Linked DNA regions of Homo sapiens: region 2 is linked to region 1. Evidence: fine-mapped expression QTL. A gene starts in region 1. The other region holds a variant in brackets. All regions are shown on one strand. Distances are between the middles of the regions. Region 1 holds the start of SPATA3 (spermatogenesis associated 3). Region 2 overlaps COPS7B (COP9 signalosome subunit 7B).

Evidence for each region. PIP is the estimated chance that this variant, and not a neighbour inherited with it, causes the effect. A credible set is the group of variants that fine-mapping cannot tell apart.
Region 2: its variant is the best candidate, but not a certain one, in a credible set for the expression of SPATA3 in nucleus accumbens (GTEx, PIP 0.77).

The regions. Positions count from the first base shown.
Region 1 is chr2:230,993,568-230,998,940 of GRCh38, reverse strand. It overlaps SPATA3 (spermatogenesis associated 3), which reads right to left and starts at 2,820. Exons shown (of 5, transcript NM_139073.5): 1 at 2,407-2,820. The coding sequence starts at 2,707. It overlaps SPATA3-AS1 (SPATA3 antisense RNA 1), which reads left to right and starts at 2,909. Exons shown (of 6, transcript NR_033879.1): 1 at 2,909-3,093; 2 at 3,556-3,664. RefSeq lists an enhancer at 2,776-3,309.
Region 2 is chr2:231,802,854-231,808,226 of GRCh38, reverse strand. COPS7B (COP9 signalosome subunit 7B) reads right to left here. Exons shown (of 7, transcript NM_022730.4): 7 at 1-740. The coding sequence ends at 582. Among named protein-coding and RNA genes, the nearest start is that of COPS7B, 19 kb to the right of the region's middle. The variant C/T (reference allele first, on the strand shown) is at 2,441.

The DNA.
Region 1 (5,373 bases):
ATTTGTGTACAAGTTTTGGTGTGCTTCTAATATGCTTAATAAGATGCTTCGAATTCTCTTGGATGTATACTGAGAAGTGGAATTGCTGGGTCATAAGGTAACTTCATGTTCCTCTGAGGAACCACCAGACTGTTTCCACAGCAGCTGCACCATTTTACATTCCCGCCTACAGTGTATGAGGATTCCAGCTTCTCTACATCCTCACCAACACTTGTTATTGTCCATCCTTCTGATTATACCCATCCTAGTGGAAGACTGGCATTTTCTTGAGCTACAATATTTCTGCACACAAAAAGGCTTGGATTTTAGAAAATGGCACGCTTTACTTGCAGGCCCTCATCCTTCATCTCCAACATTCCTTTCTACGCAGAGAATTCCTTTGGAAGAAGTATAGGGTGTCTGCTGTAACCACTGGCGAGCCACCACCATTTCTTGCTTTCTTGCTTTGCCTGTTCAATGGGCCAAATTCTTCTCTGAGTATGAGTCACATGTGTTCATTAAAAGACTTGGGAATGGAAAGTCTTGCTTTCTACCAGTACTGAAGATGCCAGTTCTGAAGATCATAACCCAGAAATGTTTCTCTCACTGGCTGATGATCACAATCTTTACAACATATAGTATGGTGCTCAAAATCAATATCATATGTCAAGAAAGGTTTGATTCCTGGCCATGGAAGGATCATTGGCATGGCATGCCTTATATTTAGCACTCTCATCTCCATCACTTATTTATTTTATGCCCACACAATCCCGGGGGGTAAACTGTGGCCCAGGGAGTGTGGCCTGTTCAAGGCTATGGAGTCGTGGGCACTGGCTCATGGCAGATCCAGGAGATGCTCGGACAGAGATGTTCTTCCTCTTGTGGAGACTCCTAGGCCTCTTGGAATGGAAAGGTCAGTGCTGTGGTTTAAAGTGAGGGTTCTGGAGTCAGAATAGAGTGGGTTTCCCTTCTCAGGGCTACCAGCGTCTGCTCAGGAGCAACCTGTTTGACTCCTATGAGCCTCAGTTTCCCCATCTATAAAATGGAGATAATATGGAAGAACTTTTATAGGATTATCACGTGTGAAAATTAAGACACCTGATCTGAATGCTAGGTACACAGTAAATGCTTAGTGATAATGTTAGTTTGCTATCACCATTATTGTTAGTAGTATAAACCAGCCCACCTCCTGAACTCCACTTGAATTCCCTCTACACAATCCAATGCTTATACAGACACTGTTTGGCTCCCAAGAAGACAGGGAACCACTTTTCCTGACAGCCATTCCATTTTCAGACAGAGCTAATTGTTGGGAAGTTTTTTATGTTGAGCCGAAGGCTTTCTGTCACTAATGTCTTCCATGGGTAAGATTGCTAATTTAGCAAATAAAAATATAGGATGCCCATGCAATACTGGGGACACACATACTAAAAATATTATTTGTTGTTTACTAAAATTAAAATTTAACTGAGAGTCTTGTATTTTGTCTGGCTATCCTATCCATGGGCCTGTATTTGTCTGTTTTCACACTGCTGATAAAGACATATCTGAGACTAGGCAATTTACAAAAGAAAGAGGTTTGTGGAACTTACAGTTCCACGTGGCTGGGGAGGCCTCACAATCATGGTGGAAGGTGAAAGGCACATCTCACATGGCGGCAGACAAGAGAAGAGAGTTTGTGCAGGGAAACTCCCTTTTTTAAAACCATTAGATCTCATGAAACTTATTCACTATCACGAGAACACCACGGAAAAGACCCTCCCCCGTGATTCAATCACTTCCCACTGGGTCCTTCCTACAACACCTGGGAATTCAAGAAGAGATTTGGGTGGGGACACAGCCAAACCACATCAGACCCTTAGATCTCTGAGGACAATAAGGAACAAGTCTATTCACATCTTCCACTTGACAGACAGACATCCTCCAATTCCTTCAATTGACTGTCATACACTAAATGGTCTCCCTGATCCTTCTCATCCTCCATCAACCCAGACTATCTTCCTTGGACTAGTTTGTCAGGCATCTTTTACAGCCCAAAAGGATAGCTTGATGAGGACAGAATAAAGCAGTATCATCACCTCCCTTATTCTAAACCATATACTTCTATAAATGCATCCTTGGTTTTTATTTTTTAGCAGTTGCATGGCACTGCTGATTCCTAGTGAGCAAGTATTACTATGGAACCAAGTTAAATGTTTATATGTATGTGTGGCTGTCTTCAGTGAGACTCAGGATGATGAGAAATGACAAAACCCAGGAATCCTGGTCTCTTGGGTAGAAACAAAAACAAAAACCTTCCCACTCTACAGCACAGCTCCAGGATACACGTTAACCATGCATCACTATCCTACAAGAACCAGCCTTTGGGATGACCCAGAACTCCATCAGCAGGAAGGCTGGAACTGCTGAAGCTAGAAGACAGCCCACCTGCTTTCCTGGATTGAGGGGCTGCCTTCACGTTAGCATCTGGAGATAAAAGGCAGCAAGAGGAGCGGCGGATTTCGGGTGCTGGAAGGGCTTGGAATGCTGGCTGCCGGGAGGTGGTTTCAAGGCTGGAATGCTGTGGTGTGGATTCAGGGCTAGGCTGCTGTGGTGTGGATTCAGGACTAGGCTGCTGTGGTGTGGATTCAGGGCTAGGCTGCTGAGAGGTGGAATTGGAGCTAGCATGCTGGGAGGTGGAGTCTCGGTGGCGTCTGGCCTCTGACCTTTTCTTCTTGACCTTCTTCATGGTAGATCCTCCCAACCTAAACGTGGACCTACATGGAGCTGCGTAATCTCCCGGCTCCCTCCTGGAGGGGCCGTTTGCCCTCTGCCCTAGGAGCCTGGCTTGGGCCTCCAGCTGGACCCAGGCCCCACAGAGAACAGTGACCCACACCTCCTGTGAGGTCATAAAAGCCAGGGTGGCTCCTATGGCAGGGCTTCAAGGGACAGTCTTCTCTGCAGACACCAGCCTGGTGTCCTCCTTCATCCCAGGCTGCCAGGCTAGGCAGGGGACAGCGGCTGCCCTGGTCCTCACAGCCCTGGCTACGGGGCTGGTGACAGCCAGATCCTCATGCTTCTGCGACCTGAGCGCTGCCTTCAGACACCTCTCTGCTGGCGTGTTCCTGGGTCCATGTGAGCTACCTGTTTTGCTCTAAGATACCCTGGATGTGACGCTCAGCTCTGTCACTGGCTTCCACATACCCCCTACTCCTACACCTCAAAAATCCATGTTCCCCACGCATTCATCTTCAGGTCAGCTTCCTGAAGATTTGGAGCTTCTTCGAAGGCTTTACCATGGCCCAGAGCCTGCTACCATCTCAGAGTAGCTTACCCCTTCCCCCAAAGCCTGCCCTCCCGCACTGTGGGAGGGGAGTTTGGGGGTTGACTTGACTTTTATAAGAACCTTTGCATTTGGCAGATAATTTTCCCTGAGAACATAACAGCTGTTCAGAAAACTAACATTTGTCTCAAACTCATGGCAATGGCAACCACAGACTATCTCCCAAACCCCAATTGGTTGGGTTAAACAGGTGACTGAATCTTTCTCTAGATTAATTAATTTAATGTGCTCATTAAATGTGATTTTTGTTTTAGGATGGAAGAAGGAAAAGTATTTTTAAAAGACAATCTGAAGCTCATACTGTGACTGCAACATAAAATGTGTTCACCTGAGGAGACTGCTTTCATCGCCAGTGTGTCACAGGTGGGTGAGTGTGGGACTGGCAAGCGCAGGAGCTCCTGCCCCAGCGGAAGGTTTAGAGCAGACCTATGCAGATAAAAAGGGCTTCGGTCACGCCTGTAATCCCAGCACTTTGGGAGGCTGAGGCGGGCAGATCACGAGGTCAGGAGATTGAGACCATCCTGGCTGACATGGTGAAACCCCGTCTCTACTAAAAATACAAAAAATTAGCCGGGCGTGGTGGTGGGTGCCTGTAGTCCCAGCTACTCGGCAGGAGAATGGCGTGAACCTTGGAGGTGGAGCTTTCAGTGAGCCGAGATCGTGCCACTGCACTCCAGCCTGGGCGACAGAGCGAGACTCTGTCTTAAAAAAAAATGGGGGGCTTTGGGCCACACAAAGCCAGACCCAACATGAACTCTGAAATGACAGGACATAGTTTAGGGCTTCTAGAGCCTAAAAATACCTTAATGATGACCTTTCCTCAGAACACTGAGGTTTAGCGAAATTAAGTTACTTTCCCAGGGTCACACAGCTGGCTGGGGGCATCGGAAGGACTAAATTCCAGTTTGGGGCTCATTATTTTCATGATCCCAGAAAACAATAGGGAGTCAGATAATTATACAGGCTTTGAAATAATGAATTAAAAAGTCCCCCAGTGGCCTGGTGCGGTGGCTCACGCCTATAATCCCAGCACTTTGGGAGGCTGAGGCGGGCAGATCATGAGGTCAAGAGATTGAGACCATCCTGGCCAACCAACATGGTGAAAACCTGTCTCTACTAAAAATACAAAAATTAGCTGGGCATGGTGGTGCACGCCTGTAGTCCCAGGTACTCAGGAGGCTGAGGCAGGAGAATCACTTGAACCTGTGAGGCGGAGGTTGTGGTGAGCCGAGATTGTGCCACTGCACTCCAGCCTGACGACAGAGTGAGACTCGTCTCAAAAAAAAAAAAAAGGTCCCTGAGCGAGAAGATTGAAGAAAACAAAGGCAGGAAGGATCAGAAGTGAAGGCAAGCTCAGCTCAAGAGTATTGGGTTGTGTTTGGTTGACCTTGGCCTAAGGAGGCTCTGGGAGCAAGTGAATCTGTATGAAGCTGGTAATTTCCTGAAGCCAAGAGCAATGGAACCCTTGAGGGGACTCCATTTAGAATCAGAGAGACTGGAAACCGAGGCCGGGAACCCTGTTGAGATCTAGCAGACAGCTCAGGAACTCCTAAGGCATTAATCTCTGCAAAGTTGGATTTTCAGGTACCAATGGGCTTCGGCCGAGGGCCTCAACCTGGTTTAAATCAGTGTTTTTCAACCTCAGCCCTGTTGACATTTTTGGGCTGAGTAATTCTTTGTTGTGGCGGGTCATCCTGTGTATTGTAGGAAGTTTACCAGATCCCTGGTCTTTACCCAGTCTTTACTCCCCCCTACCCCAGGACAACCCAAAATGTCTCCAGATATTGCTAAATGTCCCCTAGAGATGGGGTAGGAGTGTGTGTGTCCACATTGCCCCTGATTGTGCCATGTTGGTGTAAATGAATCAGATAGGAGCAGACACATATAGGTAGAACTTCCTGGTAGCAATGAAAGAAATATTCCATTTTACCAGAAGGAGCCAAACAGGGCACAGAGAATGAGTCTCTGTCTTCCTGTAGAAAGATGGAGGAAGCACAGAGGGCAGGCCGAGGGAGGAGTGGGGAATTTCTCTGTGGCAGCAGCAAAAATATGTGTGAATTCTTTAGTAAGAG
Region 2 (5,373 bases), 810 kb before region 1:
ACCCGTGGGTTTAGTAAACACAGCCCAGCATCACGTCCCTCCACGGCCTGAACTGGAGCTGCCAACAAGGGATGAGGCAGGAGAGGGAAAGCAGCGCATCTTGACGCCTGGCTAGAAATCACTGCACCATCGTGAGGACTGTGGTACCAGGGGCTGGAGAGGAGTGCCCCCTCCTCACAAGGGGAGGGGCCTCCTTCACAATCATCCCTGGGGGCTGGTTAAAGCTGCCTCCGGCTTATAACCAGCCTGACAAAATGACGTGGAGCAAAAGAAAAACTGGGAGGGAGACAAGCCCTTACACAGAGACAAGAACCTCCTGGAGGGAAGCTGGGCAGTGTCTGACCCTGTTTTGGGATGGCATTGGTGGAGCCCCTGAGTCTGAAGGGAACAACTGGGGAAGGAGGGAGTGGGTGAGGGGGAGTAACAGTTTTTCTGGAACAGTACCAACAGGGTGGGGAGGCGCTGGTGAGGGGACGGGCAGGTCTGGAACTCACTGCAGGTAGAGAGGGGAGGAAATGGGCCCTTGGTGTCCCCTCCCCACCTGACCCAGGCCTGGTGAGTGCCAGCTGCCCCAGCCGGCCCTAGTGGCGGCTGGAGACCAGACCTTTCACTTTGGACATCTTCTTGGTGGGCTGCCTCTGCTCAGCGTGAGGGGGACACTCCCGTTCAGCCAGCTGCTGCTCCATCTCCTGAGCCGAGGAGGATGCGGTGGCTTTGAGTGTCTTCTTGATGTTGGTAACCTGGTGGGGAGATATAGAATTGGAGTGCTCAGCCTGTATGTGCTCACCAAAACTTGCTCTCACTATGTCTTCACTTCAGACAGGAAGCTAAAATCCTCTGCAAGAAAACCTGAAATTCTCTTCAGAAATCCAGATGAGCAGAAACGAGCCTGGGCTACTCACAGCAGATTTGTGGAAATGAGTCAAGCAAAAATGTGGGACTAATGCTCTCCTGGTTGAAACAAATGGAAGGGGAACATTTGGCAAAGAGGCACATCACCAACAGTGAAATAAATCGTGATTAAAATGTCCTCAGAAAGAGGGACCCAAGAATTCTACACTCTGCTGTTATTCATTTATAAAACCACAAATATTTTCATAAAAACTTTGGGAATACAGCTCCATGAACCTTCTTGAATAAACCAGTAGAGGATGAACTTCAGCCAACTAAGTGAGAAATGAAGAAAATGTAATAGAAGTACTGGCAAAATGCTATGACACTACCGTGTGCAGTATAGCTTTCTTTCACTTAACAAAATACAGACTCGTAAATACTTAAGCAGCTCTTGAACATTTTACCACGTCAGAACAGATATCCTCTGTGACACTTGAACCCTATTCTATTAGGAAGGTTCTCCAGTTTTCCAGTTTTTTGAATTGGTTCCTAGTTTGGGTTTCAGTGCTACTCTGAACAGCCCTTTATGTTTACCTTTGCATACTTCTGTGAACATCTATGGAAGATACTCCTAGAAGTGAGCTTTCCAGATCAAAGTCGATTTACATTTTACATTTGAATCAGTACTGCTATATTGCCTGCTGAAAAGTGACTATTCCAAACCTTTGCTCCTCAGTTCGTTGAGAGGAAGAAACAGCAGGAAGAGGATGGTGGTGGTAGGGAAGAACAGTGCAGTCAAATAAGTAATAGCTTTTTTAGTCTTTTTTTTTTTTTTTTTTGGAGACAGAGTCTTACTCTGTTGTACAGGATGGAGTATAGTGGCACAATCACAGCTCACTGCAGCCTCAACTGCCCAGGCTTAAGTGATCCTCCCACCTCAGCCTCCTGAGCAGCTTGGACCACAGGCGCTTGCCACCATGCCTGGCTAATTTTTAAAAACTTATTTGTAGAGACAAGGTTTCACCACGTTGTCCAGGCTGTTTTCAAACTCCCAGGGTCAACTGACCCTCCTACCTTGGCCTCCCAAAGTGCTGGGATTACAGGCATGAGCCACCACACCCAGCCAGTTTTCTACATAGTGAAAAGGAGTTGTCAGGGTCAAAAGTTCTCAACAGTCAGAATATTATGAGCTTGAGGGTAAGAGACAGTCCAAATGCAAAGACAAAACAATGCTATGAGGGTGAGACAAAAATTGGGTTCCTGGAGGAGAGCCATCATCTGCAGAATCCACCTTAACTAGATCATAAATTGTTTTTTGTTGTCACTATTTTGAGACAGGGGGAAAAGCCATGCCCTAAACTTCTGTAACCTCAATCAACGCTGTAGCCTTTCTGAAGAGAGAATGACAGAGGACTGTGGGCTGGAACAGTCATTACAGAGGGCAGGCTGGGCATGGTGGCTCACACCTATACTTCTAGCACTTTGGGAGGCTGAGCAAAGAGAATTGCTCAAGAGCAGGTGTTCAAGACCAGCCTGGGCAACATAGTGGGACCCTGTCTTTCTTAAAAAAAAAAAAAAAAATTTTAGCCAGGTATGGTGGCATGCA[C/T]CTGTAGTCCCAGCTACTCAAGTGGCTGAGGCAGGAGGATCGCTTAAGCCCAAGAGGTAGAGGCTACAGTGAGCCATGTCTGCACCACTGCACTCCAGCCTAGATGACATTCAAGTAAGACCTTATCTCAACAAAAAGACATAAAAGAAAAAAACATGTGCCTGGTGTGGTGGCACATGCCTATAGTCCTAGCTATTCAGGAGGCTGAGGCAGGAGGATCACTTAAGTCCAGGAGTTTGAGGCTGCAGTGAACTATGATTACACCACTGATTCCAGCCTGGGTGACACAGCAAGACCCAGTGCCTGGAAATATATAAATATATATATATATATATATATAAAATTTAAAAAAAAATATATATATATATATATAATAAACAGGGAGGGGAATTCAACTCTGGGTTTATCCAGTGTCCTGCCAGACAACAAAACACAATCTGGGAACCCCAGAACCCTGAGGCATCTCGCCCTCCCAGCGGCTCACTGCCACTTTGGTGTACCTCATTCAGTGAGTCACCTGGCAAGGTGGTGAGTGAATGATCTGGAGCAAGCCAATGGCTTATCACTCTTTCTCTGATAAAAGAAATATTATTTGTTTTAAGACTTTTTTTAAAAAATAGAAATGGGATCTTGCTATGTTGCCCAGGCTGGTCTCAAACTTCTGGCATGAACCAATTTGCCTGCCTCAGCCTCCTAAGTAGCTGGGACTACAGACACATACTATCATGCCCAGCTAAGGCATATTTTGATGACATTGGAGGAAAAATTAAGAAATTTGACTTCTCAGGGAACACTGCTTTATAAAATAACATTCTAAGGCTTCTCCAATTTGATATATTTTCTAAATATCCAGAAGAAAATGAACTAAAATCATAATAAGAGGTAACGACATGACTTTAGTTTATTTATTTGCATGTCAGTTACCTCTAACTTCCAAAGAAGATCCTGCAATTTAACATTACCTGAGGGAATGTGTTTTAAAGTCTCCCCAAAAGCTGACAAAATTTTAATCAAATAAGACATTAGAAAACAAACAAGTTTTTGTTTCAAGGACTGTATTTCCAAAATGGGGTATCTTTCCAAGCAAATAATTACCTTTCCCATTTGGCAAAATAGCTTTATTAAAAATTAAAAAAACAAAACCAAAAAAAATTCCTAATTTCATCTTGTCTGATAAGCACTATTTAGCCTTATTTCCTCAAGTTATTTGTGTAATAATTTTTACTAAACAATCAGCTTAGGCCAGGCACAGTGGCTCACGCCTGTAATCCCAGCACTTTGGGAGGCTGAGGCAGGCAGATCACGAGGTCAGGAGATCGAGACCATCCTGGCTAACGCGGTGAAACCCCATCTCTACTAAAAATATAAAAAGTTAGCCGGGTGACGTGGCGGGCACCTGTAGTCCCAGCTACTCGGGACGCTGAGGCAGGAGAATGGCGTGAACCCGGGAGGCAGAGCTTGCAGTGAGCCAAGATCGCGCCACTGCACTCCTGCCTGGGCTACAGAGCCAGACTCTGTCTCAAAAAAAAAAAAAAAAATCAGCTTATACTACAAATAGTTTTCTACATTATTTAACATGTCTTAGATTTACTGACAGTCTCATAACCCCTGCATGAGTAAGGAAAAGGCATTAATCAATCCCCAAATAATGGTTATATTTTCAATCCGCTTCACCTATGTTTTTGTAGCATAAAGTCATTATCAGCCTATCAGAAAGTGACAACCGGCATTTATTTCTCTCTTTAGAGTGGCCCAAGGTGATTTGGGCCGGCTTTGGACTCAGAGTATCTATGGCTGGGCTGAGTGATGAGTCCCTGACCTGCCAGCCAAGGAGCAAACTCTGCCTGTGGCACATCCACCAACGGCAACGCTCCGCTGCCAGCCTCTCAGCAACTGACCAGTTCAACTGACTCCCAAGGCTTTGCTGTTTTACTCTTTTTCTTTTCAAAGCTCAACACTTCCAATGCTTCTCCTTCACAGAGCCACAAACTCATGGTTCTCACTCTGGTCCTGAGGGAGCCCGCGCATCATCCTTCTGCAGTCACAGAAGGGCTGACCCTCTGCTTCATTTCTGTACTGCCACTCCCTACCATAACGCAGCCTCCCTCTCTCATGGTGACTCAATTCTATTTAAAAGCCTTTGAGATTCAAGATCCTGTCAAAAGCTTTTGAACAAATAAGTAGACAGAAGCATGGACACTTTCCCCTGTTATTCAGATGCCTATTTACTTCCTCAAGCCATTTTCTCCTGTAGAAACTGCTCTCATTCAGCTTTTTTAGGGGCTCAGTAACCCTGACATGCAATAAAAAGAAATAAGACTTGGCCCAGGGAAAAACTTGGTTTTTTCTCTAGTTCTGAAATACCAAGATCAGGTACCTTCCTTCCCACTCCTCAACACATGCCCTGCACTCAAGCCATCTCAGCCACACTCGTCCCCCACACCACACTTGGAAGCAGTCATTCCCCCTATGCCCTTCTGTTGTTCATGCACCCCGGGGGTTACCGCTCCTCCCCAGGTTGCCCCTCTGATCCTGCCTGGAGAGTTGAGCACCTGGTCCATACAAACTGCCCTGACTGCTGCAGCCCACACTGATCTGCCACCCTTCAATCTGTACTTGCCTGGCAGTGCCTCTCCCTCTTCGATGGCCTCCCACACCACTGCATCTCCTTTGTGTTTCAGATGCACACACCTCACTCCTCCAATAAGACTGCTGACAAATCTAAGTCCTCTACAGTCGTTACCACTTTGAGGCAAAATGTAAACATCCTGCAGAGGAAAAGAGGGCTTCTTGGGCAAGTGTCTCTAAGCCTAGGAAATGAGCCTTTTATCCTCCACAAAGGCCTGGCCTGGGCTGGGGCAGGGCCATGGCCCTCACACTGGGATCCATTACAGAGACACTTTGCTCAAGTCAGCTTTACCACTGCATTTACA